Linked DNA regions of Homo sapiens: region 1 is linked to region 2. The links come from fine-mapping of genetic effects on gene expression. Tissue or cell type: whole blood. Region 2 holds a variant in brackets; the other region holds the start of a gene. All regions are shown on one strand. Distances are from middle to middle.

Region 1 (8,000 bases), 140 kb after region 2:
ACTGCAATCCCCGTCAGCTGGCCGAGAGTGGAAACACGGCGCCCATCAGCAAAGCCACAAACCTAACCCTAGCCCTAAGCCTGCCCCCACCCCTGGCTGCCCAACCACAGGCTGGGCAGGAATGAGCCAGGGGATGGGGACAGGGAGAGGTGAAAAAGGCCACGGCCCATCCAGGTCTGGCTCCAGGGAAGCGTGAGGTGATTACCATGGTGGACGGTGAACCTTCCTCCGTGAACCACAGTCCCCAAGAGTGCAGGGCGGTGCCCAGGCAGAAGTCAGCCTGCAGCAGAGAGCATGGGGTCAGGTGGGCATGGACAGGCTTCCCAGCCCGAACTTGTTCAGAGCAGCAGGAGGAGAGCTGGGAGTTAGGGGAGAAGTCAGCAGCCCTGGAGACTTCTGGGAAGAAGTGATCTCGCCCGGGGTGCCGGGGTCCTCTGAGCCCCCTGCTAGGAAGCACTCAGAGAGCAACCTGGCTCCCTCAGTCACTGGGATACAGTGGGGCAGGGCCAGCGGCTGCCCCAGGCATCACTAACACACCCACATGCTGGTGATGCAATCCTTGGGATGCAGGTCTCAGGGAGCAGGCCTGGCCAAAGGGGAGGCCAAGGCCCCCCTCTCAGTGTCGCCTCAGCCCCAGCAGGAGCAGTGCTCAAAACCCCTATGAGCCATCTGGATTCTGAGAACATTCAACACCAGTTCACATGCCAAACAAGGAGGCAGCGGCCGAGAAGGCTCTGTGTCCTGCAGTCTCCTGGAGCAGCAGGACTTCAGAAGTCCAGGTCCGCGGGAGGGAGGGAAGAGAGGGTGAGGGCAGGATGGTGAGTGAACGACAGCAGAGGACGCTGGTGGTTCCAAGAAGTGAAAGAGAAAACGAGAAGACGAGAAGACGACACCAGCCAGACAGGCAGCCCTCTCCATTCCTGCTGGCATCACACCTTCCTCCCAGGCAGCCAGGAACCGGATAGGGCAGGGGAAGCCACTGGTTCAGCCTGAAAGTTTCTACACAAGAGCCAAGGCCTAAAACAACACCCACCCCCGCCTCACTGCAGAGAGCAGGACTCCCATCCGTGCCAGAAAATCCAGGGAAGGGCCGGGCGCAGTGGCTCACGCCTGCAATCCCAGCACTTTGGGAGGCTGAGGCGGGCGGATCATGAGGTCAGGAGATCGAGACCATCCTGGCTAACACGGTGAAACCCCGTCTCTACTAAAAATTCAAAAATTAGCCGGGCGTGGTGGTGGGTGCCTGTAGTCCCAGCTACTTGGGAGGCTGAGGCAGGAGAATGGCGTGAACCCGGGAGGCAGAGCTTGCAGTGAGCTGAGATTGTGCTACTGCACTCCAGCCTGGGCGACAGAGCGAGACTCCATCTCAAAAAAAAGAAAACTCAGGGAAGTCAGAAGAGCACTCAGAAACGCATTTAAAGACACAATTCTGCACCAAGACAGAATGAGGACGTGCCCAGAAAGCTGAGCCCTTCGAACTTGGTTCAGAAGCAAATACAAGCCCTGGGAGCTTCTGCTTCAGGACAGGGGAACCCCTACGCTCACTCTCAACCAGGTGGGGAGCAGAGAAGCACCTACGACCATGTCCCTCACTTAAGGAAGCGAAGTGAGTCCCTCAGCCCAGCAACCGCTTCTGGGACCGATTATCCAAGGAAGGCCTATCACGCGATGGCCCGTGACCTGGTCACAGGCTCTCCTGCGGTGGAGCGGCTCAGCCTTTTCTAGCTTTTCACTGTTGCTTTAATGGGTCCAGTGTTCTGGTTTAGGAAATAAGGCCTTTGCCATGTGGCTACAGATGTTTGACTAAGAAAAAGATTCTAGGGCTGGGCACAGTGTCTCACGCCTGTAATCCCAGCACTTTGGGAGGCCGAGGCGGGCAGATCATGAGGTCAAGAGTTCAAGACTAGGCCGGGCACGGTGGCTCATGCCTGTAATCCCTGCACTTTGGGAGGCCAAGGCGGGCGGATCACGAGGTCAGGAAATCGAGACCATCCTGGCTAACACAGTGAAACACCGTCTCTACTGAAAATACAAAAAAATATTAGCCGGGCGTGGTGGTGGGCGCCTGTAGTCCCAGCTACTTGGGAGGCCGAGGCAGGAGAATGGCGTGAACCTGGGAGGCAGAGCTTGCAGTGAGTTGAGATCGTGCCACTGCAATCCAGCTTGGGCGACAGAGCAAGACTCCGTCTCAAAAAAAAAAAAAAAAAAAGTTCAAGACCAGCCTGGCCAACATGGCGAAACCCCGTTTCTACTAAGAATACAAAAATTAGCCGGGCGTGGTGCCTGTAGTCCCAGCTACCCGGGAGGCTGAGGCAGAATTGCCTGAACCCAGGAGGCGGAGGTTGCTGTGAGCCAAGATCACACCATTGCACACCAGCCTGGGCGACAGAGCGAGACTCCGTCTTGGGAAAAAAAAAAACACAGAAAAAGGTTCTAAGCAAAACCATCAGGCAAAGTCCTAAAGGAACTGGAAGTAGCAACTGTGACCTTAGGGGAAGAAAAGACAAGGCCTCAGGCAATGCCCATGGGCCACCGCTGGCTGCCCTCGCTGTGAACAATGCCCATGGGCCACCACTGGCTGTCTGCTGTGACAGGCGCGTCTAACAAGTGCTGGCAGCTGTGACAGGCAGCAGAGAGGGGCCAGATCCACCACTCCCACAGTCCTCAGGCGCCAAGAAGCCACGGGGCCAAAGAGCGCGGCAGAGCAGACGCCAAGAGGACCCTTCTCTGGGTCCAGAAATGCCCCCCAACTGGGAAATCCAGGCATCTGGTCCCCCGAGTTACATACCTGTGGGCTGTCATCTTTCTCTTCCTCCATGGCCAGAAACAGAAAAAACAGTCAGGGGCGAAAAGCAGACAGCCTGAAGCAAACAAGGGCACACCTCTACCCGCTCATGCTCACACCTGGACACTTTTCCCTGGGTTCCTTTCAAGTCAAATTATGTTTCACTGAAAGGAAAATCCTGCTGAAAAAGTCTGTTCTCCAGGAAGAAAAGCTGTCTTTTGAGAAGTGTCTGTCATCTGCTAGGAGCCACCTCCTTCCCTCTGTAAACAGCCCTCACGTGGCTGTCCCGGAACCCAGAACAGCAGCCAGATGGGGCGTATCCAAGCAGGTCAAGAGGAGCCAGGCCCAGCGCGGCGGGGATGGGGGCAGCGCTGCCTTCTGGAGAAGCACGGCTGGAGGGGAGGTGACGCTGGCGGGGCGTGGATCCGGGGTGTGGGGATGCAGCTGGGGAGGAGGGTGCAGCTGGGGAGGGGGTGGATCCGGCGTGTAGGGGTACCGCTGGGGAGTGGGTGCAGCTGGGGAGGGGGTGGATCTGGGGTGTGGGGGTGCCGCTGGGGAGTGGGTGCAGCTGGGGAGGGGGTGGATCCGGCGTGTAGGGGTACCGCTGGGGAGTGGGTGCAGCTGGGGAGGGGGTGGATCTGGGGTGTGGGGGTACTGCTGGGGAGAGGGTGCAGCTGGGGAGCGCGTGGATCCGGCGAGTGGGGGTACCGCTAGGGAGGGGGTGCAGCTGGGGAGGGGGTGGATCTGGGGTGTGGGGGTGCCGCTGGGGAGGGGGTGCAGCTGGGGAGGGGGTGGATCTGGGGCGTGGGGGTGCCGCTGGGGAGGGGGTGCAGCTGGGGAGGGGGTGGATCTGGGGCGTGGGGGTGCCGCTGGGGAGGGGGTGCAGCTGGGGAGGGGATGGATCTGGGGTGTGGGGGTACCGCTGGGGAAGGGCGTGCAGCTGGAGAGGGGATGGATCTGGGCTGTGGGGGTGCCGCTGGGGACGGGGTGCAGCTGGGGAGGGGGTGGATCCGGATTGTGAGGGTGCGGCTGGGGGGCGACTTCCGCGTGGGGTGAGAGGTCGCCTGCGAGGGTGACCGGGCAGGAGGGCTCAGTGCGCAAGCCGGACGTGCTGGGTCCAAGATTATTGATTAATTTGGGCACCGCGAGGGCTCGAGTCCCCCCACACCACTGCCCGGCCTGCGGGGGAGCACAGACAGCCCGGGCCCTCCCGGCTGCAGGTCCCGGGCTTTCCCCGCGCGGTTGCCGGCTCCGCCCAGAGGAGCCGCGCCCGGCGGAGGGGTAAGAAAGGCAGGGTCGCGGCGTCAACGCGGCGGCCGTCTCGAGTCCAGGGCCCGCGTCCTCCCCGACCTCCCGACGCCACCTCACGGCCTCAGGGGGACTGGGCTCCCGGGAAACCGCCGGCCACCTGGCGGACGAACACAGGCAGTGGCGGGCAGTGGAGACGCCAGGGACCACCGCGCTGAGAGCGATCACTCATCCGCCAGCCCCGCCCCGCGAGCCCCGCCCCGCGAGCCCCGCCCCGCGAGCCCCGCCCCGCGAGCCCCGCCCCGCGAGCCCCGCCCCGCGAGCCCCGCACCGCCGGCCCCGCACCGCCAGCCCCGCGAGCCCCGCCCCGCCCCGCGCGCTCCTCGCATTGGCCGAGTCCCCGCGGCCACACCCCCTACCAGATTGGGGCCGCTATTGGACGCGGCGGCCGCGGCCAATCGGAGCCGCTCTTGCTGCGACGCAGCGGTCGGAAGCGGAGCAAGGTCGAGGCCGGGTTGGCGCCGGAGCCGGGGCCGCTTGGAGCTCGTGTGGGGTCTCCGGTCCAGGTGAGTCTGTCGGATTGGGGCGGGCGCCGCGCGCGGCCAGGGGCGGGGCTGGCCGGGTTCCCGGGGCCGCGACTACCCGCTCTCTCCTCCCGCAGGGCGCGGCATGGGCGTCCTGGCCGCAGCGGCGCGCTGCCTGGTCCGGGGTGCGGACCGAATGAGCAAGTGGACGAGCAAGCGGGGCCCGCGCAGCTTCAGGGGCCGCAAGGGCCGGGGCGCCAAGGGCATCGGCTTCCTCACCTCGGGCTGGAGGTTCGTGCAGATCAAGGAGATGGTCCCGGAGTTCGTCGTCCCGGATCTGACCGGCTTCAAGCTCAAGCCCTACGTGAGCTACCTCGCCCCTGAGAGCGAGGAGACGCCCCTGACGGCCGCGCAGCTCTTCAGCGAAGCCGTGGCGCCTGCCATCGAAAAGGACTTCAAGGACGGTACCTTCGACCCTGACAACCTGGAAAAGTACGGCTTCGAGCCCACACAGGAGGGAAAGCTCTTCCAGCTCTACCCCAGGAACTTCCTGCGCTAGCTGGGCGGGGGAGGGGCGGCCTGCCCTCATCTCATTTCTATTAAACGCCTTTGCCAGCTATACGGTGTTTGTTTTTTGGCCTCAGGTCATGGCAAAGTGTGCAGCATGACAGATTTCAGTGCAGGCACCTAAGCCGAGTTCTCATGCAGACTCGGCGCTGTGAACCTCTTTGGAGGTCATCTTCCGAGTCCGAAGGTTCTGGGAACCTGCCAAGGGCAAACATCACTCAGCTTGCAGGAGAAAGAATTTACAAGGCAGATTGTGCCGGATGACAGCACTGGTCAGTTCATCCCCCAAATTATTCACCCAGGGAACAAAGATACAGAGATGGGGGTCTCACTATGCTGCCCAGGCTGAGAACTCATGGGCTGAAATGATCCGCCCGCCTCAGCCTCCCAAAATGCTGGGATTACAGGTGTGAGCCACTGCGCCCAGCCTAGGAAAATTTCCTGTTGCAATCTGACATATAGTGACATGTTGTGTTGTATCATCAGAAAAGAAGAAAGGGATAAGGCCAGGTGCGGTGGCTCACGCCTGTAATCCCAGCACATTGGGAGGCTGAGGCGGGAGGATCACAAGATTAGGAGTTCAAGACCAGCCTGGCCAGCATGATGAAACCCCATCTCTACTAAAAATACAAAAATTAGCCAGGCGTGGTGGCGTGCGACTGTAGTCCCAGCTACTCCAAAGGCAAGAGAATCGCTTAAACCCAGGAGGCAGAGCTTGCAGTGAGTCGAGATCGCACCACTGCACTCCAGCCTGGGTAACAGAGTGAGACTCCGTCTCAAAAAAGGGATAAAACTGCATGTTTTTTTGCTTGTAGTCACCTATGTATCATTAGTAAATGCTGAGGATTTGACAAATAGTGGCCTGTACCTCAACCACAGTTCCTCCCAGAGAGACAAAAGCCCTCACAGCAGGAGTTGGATGTAACACACCCAGTTTGTTCACACACCTAAAGTCACCATCTGTCCAGTATTTGGGAGCTAACCCGTGTGGGTGCTGCAGTGATGAGTGTTCCCTACAGACTTCACATATTTCAAGCTGATGACCCCCAAGGCAACTTGGAACACACACTCCCTTTTACTTACCTGCATAGGGATCCAATACAGGTTGAGCGTCGTTATCCAAAATGCTTGGGGCTGGGCGCCCTGGCTCATGCCTGTAATCCCAGCACTTTGGGAAGCCGAGACAGGCGGGTCATCTGAGGTCAGGAGCCTGGCCAACATGGTGAAACCCCATTTGTACTAAAAATACAAAAATTAGCCAGGCATGGTGGCACACACCTGTAATCCCAGCTACTCCGGAGGCTGAGGCAGGAGAATCACTTGAACCTGGGAGGTGGAGGGCAGTGAGTCGAGATGGAGCCACCGAGATTGAGCCACTGCACTCCAGCCTGGGTGACGAGCATGACTCTGTCTCAAAAAAAAAAAAAGGCACAGCTCAACGCCTGTAATCCCGGCACTTTGGGCGGCCAAGGTGGACGGATCACCTGAGGTCCAGAGTTTGAGAGCAGCCTGACCAACATGGAGAAACCTTGTCTCTACTAAATATACAAAATTAGCCGGGCATGCTGGTGGATGCCAGCTATTGGGAGGGTGAGGCAGGAGAATCGCTTGAACTTGGGAGGCGGAGGTTGCAGTGAGTCAAGATTGTGCCATTGCACCCCAGCCTGGGCAGCAAGAGCAAAACTCCATCTCGGGGGGCAAAAAAAAAAAAAGCTTGGAACCAGAAATGTTTTGGATTTCAGATTTTGGAATATCTGCATGTACATAATGAGACATCTTGGGGATGAGATGAGATACAAGTCTAAACATGAAATTCAATTTTGTTTCATGTACACCTTATACACATAGCCTGAGGGTAGTTTTATACAATATATATGTTTTTTAGGCTAGTCAAATGAAGCTGTGAGAGAAGGAATGAATCTGTAACTGGTTGTCCTCAATTATTGTTTATACAATTTTTTATTATTTAATTTTTAGAGATAAGAGTCTTGCTCTGTTGCCCCTGGCTCATTGCAGCCTCGACCTCCTGGGCTCAACAATCCTCCTGCCTCAGCCTCCCAAGTGGCTGGGACCATAGGCACATGCACCACACCTGGCTAATTTTTGTTTTACTTTTTATAGAGACTGGGTTTTGCTATGTTGCCCAGGCTGGTCTTGAACTCCAGGCCTCAAGCAATCCTCCTGCCTCAGCCCCTTCCAAAGTGCTGGGATTACAGGCCACTGTGACTGTGCTCAGTAGTTTTAATAATATATGCAACCCGTCACATGAGTTCAGCTGCGGGATTTTCCAAAAGTTTTGGGATTTTGGATTTTTGGACTGGCTGTGCTCAATCTATACAAGCATTTCTGGTGCCATGATGAGGCATAAAATGTTCATTTTAAACATGTTATAAACTCGTGTTTTTCAAAAAACTTCATTTAATACAAATAGTTGCTTAAACAAGTATGAAAGGCTGAAAGTCAAAATCTGCCTGAGAAACTTAACAAATCTGCAAGCTGGAAACCGCGTCTTTTCCCCACTCTCTGCCAGACAGAATCACCCAGTCCACTTTCAGGGGCCCAGCAGGGAAGCTGATTTAAGAGAAGTCAACAGCTTTTCTGACTACACTGTGGATTCCATCAGTGCACAGGCACCTGCAGGGCTGCAGTAAGCATCTCTGATGAGGTGGTCCCGGGCACTCACTCGCAGTCTCCCTCCTGGTTTCCTTGTGGGAAGGGGCTTCATGATTTCAAGCTCAGTTCCCCTCCCACTCCCAGAGGTGGAGCGCATGGTCATAGAAGGAGCAGGTGGCCAGGAGGCTGAAGGCTGAGTCTGCTTCTTCTGGGTTCACGCCACAGTCACGTGTGGTGGCTGCTGTAGCCTGCAGCCAGGTGCC
Region 2 (8,000 bases):
ACACACGCGGGAGGCGGGAGGCGGGAGGGGCACAGCAAAGGGTCTGGGGGGAGGCCGGAGGGGGCTTTCCCCTTGGGCACCATGGACACCCCAGGCCCCGCAGCACACAAATGCGGAGCCTCAAGCCTCCAGGGGTTTTCCAGCCTCACGCCTCCGGGGGTCTCCCCAGCCTCATGCCTCTGGGGATCTCCCACCCTCATGCCTCCTGTGGTCTCCCAGCCTCAGGCCTCCAAGGGTCTCCCTGGCCCAACCTCCTTGCTGTGTCTCCAGAAAGCTCTGAAGCCCAGCCCCTCCTCCTCACGTTCGACTGCGCTGCGTGGGTGTTTTACTAAAACCCAACAGTGACTCTTCCTCTGGGCGCCTGGATGTGTCTCCTCCAACATTTGGCCGGCCCTGCACGTGCCCCAAAGCTCCCAAGGGGCTTTTAAGAGGGCTTTGGGGTGGGGGGGCCGGGCATGGTCGCTCACGCCTGTAATCCCAGCACTTTGGGAAGCTGAGGCGGGAGGATCACGAGGTCAGGAGATCGAGACCATCCTGGTTAACACGGTGAAACCCCGTCTCTACTAAAAATATAAAAATTTGCCGGGCGTGGTGGCGGGCGCCTGTAGTCCCAGCTACTCCGGAGGCTGAGGCAGGTGAATGGCGTGAACCCGGGAGGTGGAGCTTGCAGTGAGCCGAGATCGCACCACTACACTCCAGCCTGGGCGATAGAGTGAGACTCTGCCTCAAAAAAAAAAAAAAAAAAAGAGGGCTCTGGGGGAGACAGCAGCCCCTACGGCCCCCACACCTCCCCCCAGCTGCTCAGCAAGGCCCTCCAGGGACGTCCAGCACAGCTGAACCGGCCCCTCAGACCAATGGTAACCCCAAATCTGAGACTGGGGGCCTTTTATCTGCGTCCCTTGAGTGGGCTGTGAGTTCCAAGATCCTCTTTAAAAAAGGTGGAGCCTCGAGCCAATCGGAATGGACAGACCCACCCTGTACAGGGAAGCCAGGCCAGCGGGCGCACAGGCCCAGGACCCGGGCGCAGCTTGTCTCTCACCATCAGGCTGGGTCAGCCCCTCTCCACAAGTCTGCAGGGCTGTTTTTATCCCTGAGCTCAGGATGAACTTGTACAAGGCCCCGATGGCACTCACTTTGCTGATCAGCCTGGGAAGGGGGCAGTCGGCCTGTCCCTTCTGTGGGAGGGCGGCTGCTATAATTTAAAGTGTGTCCCTCTGAAACACGCTGGAATTCCATCACCATGCTGCGGCGTTTCAAGGTGGGGCCTTGGGACGTGCCCGGGGGGTGAGGATCCTGCCCCACTGGAGGGATTAATCCATTCATGGATTCCTGGGTTATCACGGGAGTGGAACTGGTGGCTTTATAAGAGGAGGAGGAGAGGCCTGAGGCCTGAGCCCGCATGCTGGGCCCTCACCATGGCTGCCCCGAGCCGCCTCAGGACCCTTCGGAGTCCCACCAGCATGAATACCTCCTCATTCAGAATCCCGCCAGCATGAACGCCTCCTCGGATGCTCCCCTCACCCTTAGACTTAGCCTCCAGAGCTGTAAGAAATAAATTCCTTTTCTTTATAAATTACCCAGTTTTAGATATTGTGTTTTAAGTTAACAGAAAACTGGCCCGGCGTGGTGGCTCACACCTTTGATCCCACCACTTTGGGAGGCCAAAGCAGGCGGATTGCTTGAGTCCAGGAGTTTGAGACCAGCCTGGGTAACATAGCGAGACTCTGTTTCTATGAAAAAAACAGGTATCTATCCAGGCATGGTGGCATGCGGCGTGTAGGGAGGGAGCTGTGTCTACAAAGCCCTGGACCTAAAAATGGCCAAGTGGAGACATGGGCTGATGTGACTGAGAATGGAAACGGCTGGCAAGGATTCAGTTCACATTCCCTCGCTGCACACTCTCTGTAACTGGCCTCATTTTAGGATGAAAAAGCCTGTCTGGATCTCTCAGCATCTTTCTCGGAACGTGGTGCCAGGTCCCAAGCCCACACCAGGACAAGCGGGGCTCCCCAGCTCCCTGATGGGGCGACACCACTCACCAGTTTTGCAGCTTCCACTTAAAATTAACAACTGCTGGCTGGGCGCGGTGGCTCACGCCCGTAATCCCAGCACTTTAGGAGGCTGAGGCGGACGGATCACAAGGTCAGTAGTTCGAGACCAGCCTGGCCAACATGGTGAAACCCTGTCTCTACTAAAAATACAAAAAATTAGCTGGGCATGGTGGCAGGTGCCTGTAATCCCAGCTACTCGGGACGTTGAGGCAGGAGAATGGTGTGAACCTGGGAGATGAAGGTTGCAGTGAGCCGAGACCGTGCCACTACACTCCAGCTGGGCAACAGGAGCTAAACTCCGTCTCAAAAAACAAAAATAATTAACAACCAACAGCTGGGCACAGTGGCTCATGCCTGCAATCCTAGCACTGTGGGAGCCTGAGGAGGGCAGATCACTTGAGGCCAGGAGTTCAAAACCAGCCTGGCCAACATGGTGAAATCCCGTCTCTACTAAAAATACAAAAATTAGCCAGGCGCGGTGGTGGGTGCCTGTAATCTCAGCTACCTGGGAGGGTGAGGCAGGAGAATCACTTGAACCCAGGAGGTGGAGGTTGCAGTGAGCTGAGATTGCACCACCGCATTCCAGCCTGGGCGACAGAGCGAAACTCTGTCTCAAAAAAAAAAAAAAAAAAAAATTAACAACCAACCCTTTTAAGTGTCTTCATTTCTTCTGAAAGGTGCTAACTCAAGCCAAATTGTTGCCATGAGTCCTGTGACCACAGAACGTTGGGTTCTGAGAACCCCAGAGGCTCTTGTTCCCTGGCCCCACGATCCACACCCAGGGAGACGACACAGCTGGGTCCCTACCCACACGGGGCAGAACTGCACAACGAGGAAGCCCCCCTGGGGGCGGCCTGGCATGGAGGAGGTGACCCACGGGGGACGTGCCTGACTCACTGTGGAGGCGACGCTGCTGAGGGCGGGGGGCAGGGCGAGGGCTGTGTCCTTTCCCACAGAGCCTGGCAGACCCCCAGGGCCTGAGTGAGGTCCAAGGCTCTGCAGGTGACTGTGCCTGGAGCCCCAGCCCCCGGCCTCAGTGCTTTCCCACAGAGCCTGGCAGACCCCCCAGGGCCTGAGTGAGGTCCAGGCGTCTCAGGGGACTGCAGGTGACTGTGCCTGGAGCCCCAGCCCCCAGCCTCAGTGCAGATTTCGGTCATTGGCTGTGGCTGCCCTGTGCGCTGAGCAGGTGTCCAGGTGGGCATAGGCTGGCACCTCTAGGGCCCCTGGACCACCGCAGAACCTGTAGCAGATTCCGGCTGAGGCCCCGAGGCCGGCCCCCCGGGTGGGGAGTCCCAGGCCTGGCCGTGAGATGGAGTAGATGATGCCGAATGGAGCGCAGGCGTGGGAGGGGCACGCACGCCCAGAAAGGCTCATCTTCACCCCAAACCCAGCTGAGCCCAGGATGCCCCCTTCCCAGAGAAGGAAACCAGCGAAGGCACAGCTGCCCCCGAGCCCTGGGCATGGGGCTTGCTCCGGAGATGGGCTCTGAGGCAGGATGGGGGGCAGCCCTGCTCCTCGGTTTCCTGGGAGGCCTGGCCAGACACCCGGCGGCCTCCCAGGGAGCCTCCACAGGAAGGCGGGACCGGCGGGACCAACAGGATGTGCAGGGGCCCCTCCCTCGAAGCTTCGCCCTCAAGTAGGACCCAAAGCTCCCTCAAACGACCCCTGAACAGGCCGACCTTGAAGGACCCCACAAGAACCCAGGTTGCTGGCAGAGGCTCAGAGGTGGCCATGGCAGGCCAGCGGCGGCCGTCAGTCTCTCCATCGGTGCCACAGCACCACCAGCCCCGGGACCTGGAAAAGGAGCGGCAGGCGGAGGCGGGGGTGGGGGAGGTTGGGGGGAGGGGGATGGGTGGGGGAGGGGGAGGGGGTGGGGGAGTGGGAGGGAGTCGGGGAGGCGGAGGGCTTCCTGTGGCCGCGGTGCACAATGGTGTTTTCTGCACACCGCAGTGAGTCACCCAAGACGGACTGGAAGCCGGGCCACCCTGCATTCTTGTCCGGGCGCCAGGTCACGCTTCCTCTGCGGTTTTTCTGTGGTGTTTCCCTGAGGACCGGTGGGCCCTCCAGGTGGGCCTTGTGCCGCCAGCAGGC[G/A]TGGCCAGGAGGGCGGGAGGCGGCAAGAGAGTGGGCTGTGTGCCCCCCAGGTCTCCCTGGCACCCCGATGGGGGGCTCCCAGGCTCCCCCACCCCCACAGAGCCGGCCTTACTGCCCTCTTCTGAGAGCGCCAACCTTGAGGGCCCTGCAGCCGCCACCCCCAGGATGCGGCAAGGACAGGGGGCTGGAGGCCGGCCTGAGACCCAGAGCGAGTGGGCGGGCAACACTGGCTTCAGAGCCCCCAGAAGCTGTTGATCCCAAAGGAGGCCTCCAAGGCCTGTCCCCTCCCCACCTCATATTGTCTGACACAGCAGCCACAGCTGAAAGTGCAAGACACGTGATTAGAGAAGGGTCAATATCTCTGTGACAGCTTTTTATATCGACTGCATGTGGAAATGGAAATATTTTGGGCATACTGGAGTTAAATAAAATATATTATTAAAATAAATTCACTTGTTTCTCAGTTTTTAAATGTGTCTACAAGAAAACTTAAAAGCCTCCTCGTCATAAAGCTCCAGGTGCCCACCGGGGCCCTTCCAGGAGAAGCAAACAGCCCCGCGGCCACCACTCCCCAAACAGTGTCAGTGGGAACCAGAAACATTCCACATGGGACAGGGTGGATACCCCAGAGCCCCCCGGGAGCAGCCCCCAGAGGCACGAGGGCACAGCAGGATGAGCTGATGCTGGCAAGATGGCCACGCACAGCCGGGGCCCCTCGGGAGGGAGTTCAGGCCTCCTCAGTGAACAGCAGCCTTGACTCACACACTGTGTCCACTGGCTTCAAAGGGAATTCCATGTGTTTACCATCTCAGTGACCATTTTTATTTAATTTTTTTGAGACAGGGTCTCACTGTCGCCCAGGATGGAGTGCGGTGGGGCGATCACGGCTCACGGCAGCCTCAATCTCCAGGGCTCAAACGATCCTCCCACCTCAGCCTCCTGAGTAGCTGGGACCACCGGAGTGCACGCTACACCTGGATAATTTTGGGAGGGGTATTTTTTGTAGAGATGGGGTCTCACTACGTCACCCAGACTGGTCTCAAACTCCTGAGCTCGGTAATCCTCCTGCCTCAACCTCCCTAAGTGCTGGGATTACAGGCGTGAGCCACCACACCCAGCCTCAGTAACTGCTCTATAACTTTGAGATATAATTCACATACCATAAAATTTACCCTCAAAGTTACAACTCGGTGTTTTCAACATGTTCACATACATGAGTCACCATCACCACTATCCAACTCCAGAACTTTTTTTTTTGAGACGGAGTCTCACTCCGTCGCCCAGGCTGGAGTGCAGTGGCGTGATCTTGGCTCACTGCAAGCTCCGCCTCCCGGGTTCACGCCATTCTCCTGCCTCAGCCTCCCGAGTAGCTGGGACTATAGGCGCCTGCCACCACGCCCGGCTAATTTTTTGTATTTTTAGTAGAGACGGGGTTTCACCGTGTTAGCCAGGATGGTCTTGATCTCCTGACCTTGTGATCTGCCCGCATCAGCCTCTCAAAGTGTTGGGATTACAGGCATGAGCCACCGCGCCTGGCCTAGCTTTTTTTTTTTTTTTTTTTTGAGACAGGGTCTCGCTCTGTCACCCAGGGTGGAGTGCAGTGGTGCGATCCCAGCTCACTGTAACCGCCTCCTGGCTCAAGTGATTCTTGTGCCTAAGTCTCCTGAGTAGCTGGGACTACAGGCGCCCACTACCACACCCGGCTAAGTTTTATATTTCTGGTAGAGACGGGGTGTTGCCATGTTTGGCCAGGCTGGTCTTGAACTCCTGACCTCACGTGATCCACTTGCCTCAGCCCAGAACATTTTCATTGCCCCAAAGACAACCAACCATGTGCCCATCAACAATTACTCCCTCTGCCCCTCCTCAGCCCCTGGCCATTTTGTGTCTCTGTGAATCTTTCTATTTTGGGCATTTCCTATAAAGGAGACCACACAGGTTCTGTTGTTTTTTTTTTCTTTTTTTTTTTTTTTGAGACGGAGTCTCACTCTGTTGCTCAGGCTGGAGTGCAGTGGTGCCATCTCGGCTCACTGCAAGCTCTGCCTCCCGGGTTTACGCCATTCTCCTGCCTCAGCCTCCCGAGTAGCTGGGACTACAGGCGTCCGCCACCACGCCCGGCTAATTTTTGTATTTTTAGTAGAGACGGGGTTTCACTGTGTGTTAGCCAGGATGGTCTCGATCTCCTGACCTCGTGATCCACCTCCCTTGGCCTCCCAAAGTGCTGGGATTACAGGCGTGAGCCACCGCGCCCGGCCAAGGTTCTGTTCTCTTGTGGCTGACTGACCTCACTTGGCATGGTGTCTTCAAAACTCATCCCTGCAGCAGCATGTGCTGGAACTGCCTTTCCGTGGCTGAGTCCTGCCCCACTGTGTGCACAGACCACGGGCTGTTTGTCCAGCAGACATTCGGGCCGCACCCCCTTGTCTGGCTGTTATAAACAGTGCTGCTGTGAACAGCTGTGTGCATGTTTCTGTGTGGAGTGTGTTTTCACTGATCTGGGGACACACATTCCTAGGACTGGAGCTGCTGAGTCTCGGTGTTTCTATGTTTAGCTTTTTGAGGAACTACCAGACTGTTTCCACAGTGGACGTGCCATTTTACGCTAGCATCGATAACACACGAGGGTTCTGATTTCTCCACAGCCTCACCAACGCCTGTTGCGGTCTGTCTTTCGTTTTTTTAAACTTACCAATTTAACTTAAGGATTGTTCCTTTCCTTAACAATTAACATGACCAATTTTAAACACAAAAAGTAACTTTCCAGGGATATTGCACAGGAGATGGAGAAGGAGGCCAGCAGGTGTGACAGGTGTGGGGTCCCACACCGCCACTCCAGGGGGGTGCTGGCATGTTTGGCCCCCGTGGGCTCCACGTAGGTCGCAGGGTTTCTTTGTATGTTTGTTTTTATGTTTTTGAGATGGAGTCTCGCTCTGTTGTCCAGGCTGAGACGGAATCTCACTTTGTCGCCCAAGCTGGAGTGCAGGGGGGCGATCTCGGCTCACTGCAAGCTTTGCCTCCAGGGTTCAAGTGATTCTCCTGCCTCAGCCTCCCGAGTAGCTGGGATTACAGGTGCCTGCCACCACGCCCAGCTAATTTTTGTATTTTTAGTAGAGACGCGGTTTCATCATGTTGGCCAGGATGGTCTTGAACTCCTGACCACAAGCAATCCGCCCACCTCGGCCTCTCAAAATGCTGGGATTACAGGCGTGAGCCACTGCGCTGGGCCTGTCACAGGTTTGTTTTTTTTTTTTCTGTTTTTTGAGATGGAGTCTTGCTCTGTTGCCCAGGCTGGAGTGCAGTGGGGCGATCTCAGCTGACTGCAACCTCCGCCTCCCGGGTTCAAACCGTTTTCCTGCCTCAGCCTCCTGAGTGGCTGGGATTACAGGCATGCACAGCTAATTTTTGTAATTTTAGTAGAGACAGGGTCTCTCCATGTTCGCCAGGCTGGTCTCGAATTCCTGACCTCAGGTGATCAGCCTGCCTCGGTCTCCTAAAGTGCTGGGATTACAGGCAGGAGCCACTGCTCCTGCCCAGGCTGCGGTTTTGAAGGACACCTTCCCTGTTCACCGTGTTGGTTTTAGCTCTGCGGCAAGCTTCTCTGTGCACCCCACCTCCCTGCAGCTCACTGCCCACAACACATGGATGTACCATGGGACAGCTGCAAGGACGGGTCAGGTGGCCCATGGGCTCTGGGGAACCCTTTCTGGGAGGTGCCAACAGCACATGTTGGGGTCACCATCACAGACGGGGCTGGGGCCAACAGTCCCCCATCAAGGGTGGGCTTTCCCAAGGACCCCAGTTCTGATCACACAAGGTAGAATCTGATGAATGATAAACAGCATTTAAAAACCATGTTTT

The links. PIP is the estimated chance that this variant, and not a neighbour inherited with it, causes the effect.
Region 1: it holds the start of PNPLA7, and the variant in region 2 is fine-mapped to the expression of PNPLA7 in whole blood (TOPMed, PIP above 0.99). The same link has a PIP of 0.9 or more in lung.

Annotation. Positions count from the first base shown.
Region 1 is chr9:137,547,380-137,555,379 of GRCh38, forward strand. It overlaps PNPLA7 (patatin like domain 7, lysophospholipase), which reads right to left and starts at 3,023. Exons shown (of 35, transcript NM_001098537.3): 1 at 2,789-3,023; 2 at 206-280; 3 at 1-17. The coding sequence starts at 2,818. It overlaps MRPL41 (mitochondrial ribosomal protein L41), which reads left to right and starts at 4,500. Exons shown (of 2, transcript NM_032477.3): 1 at 4,500-4,599; 2 at 4,695-5,176. The coding sequence starts at 4,703. The coding sequence ends at 5,116. DPH7 (diphthamide biosynthesis 7) reads right to left here. Exons shown (of 9, transcript NM_138778.5): 9 at 7,065-8,000. The coding sequence ends at 7,860. LOC124902317 (a long non-coding RNA gene) reads right to left here and starts at 6,301. Exons shown (of 2, transcript XR_007061883.1): 1 at 6,208-6,301; 2 at 5,148-5,322.
Region 2 is chr9:137,407,820-137,415,819 of GRCh38, forward strand. All of the region lies in intron 1 of EXD3 (exonuclease 3'-5' domain containing 3), which reads right to left. Among named protein-coding and RNA genes, the nearest start is that of EXD3, 11 kb to the right of the region's middle. The variant G/A (reference allele first, on the strand shown) is at 4,143.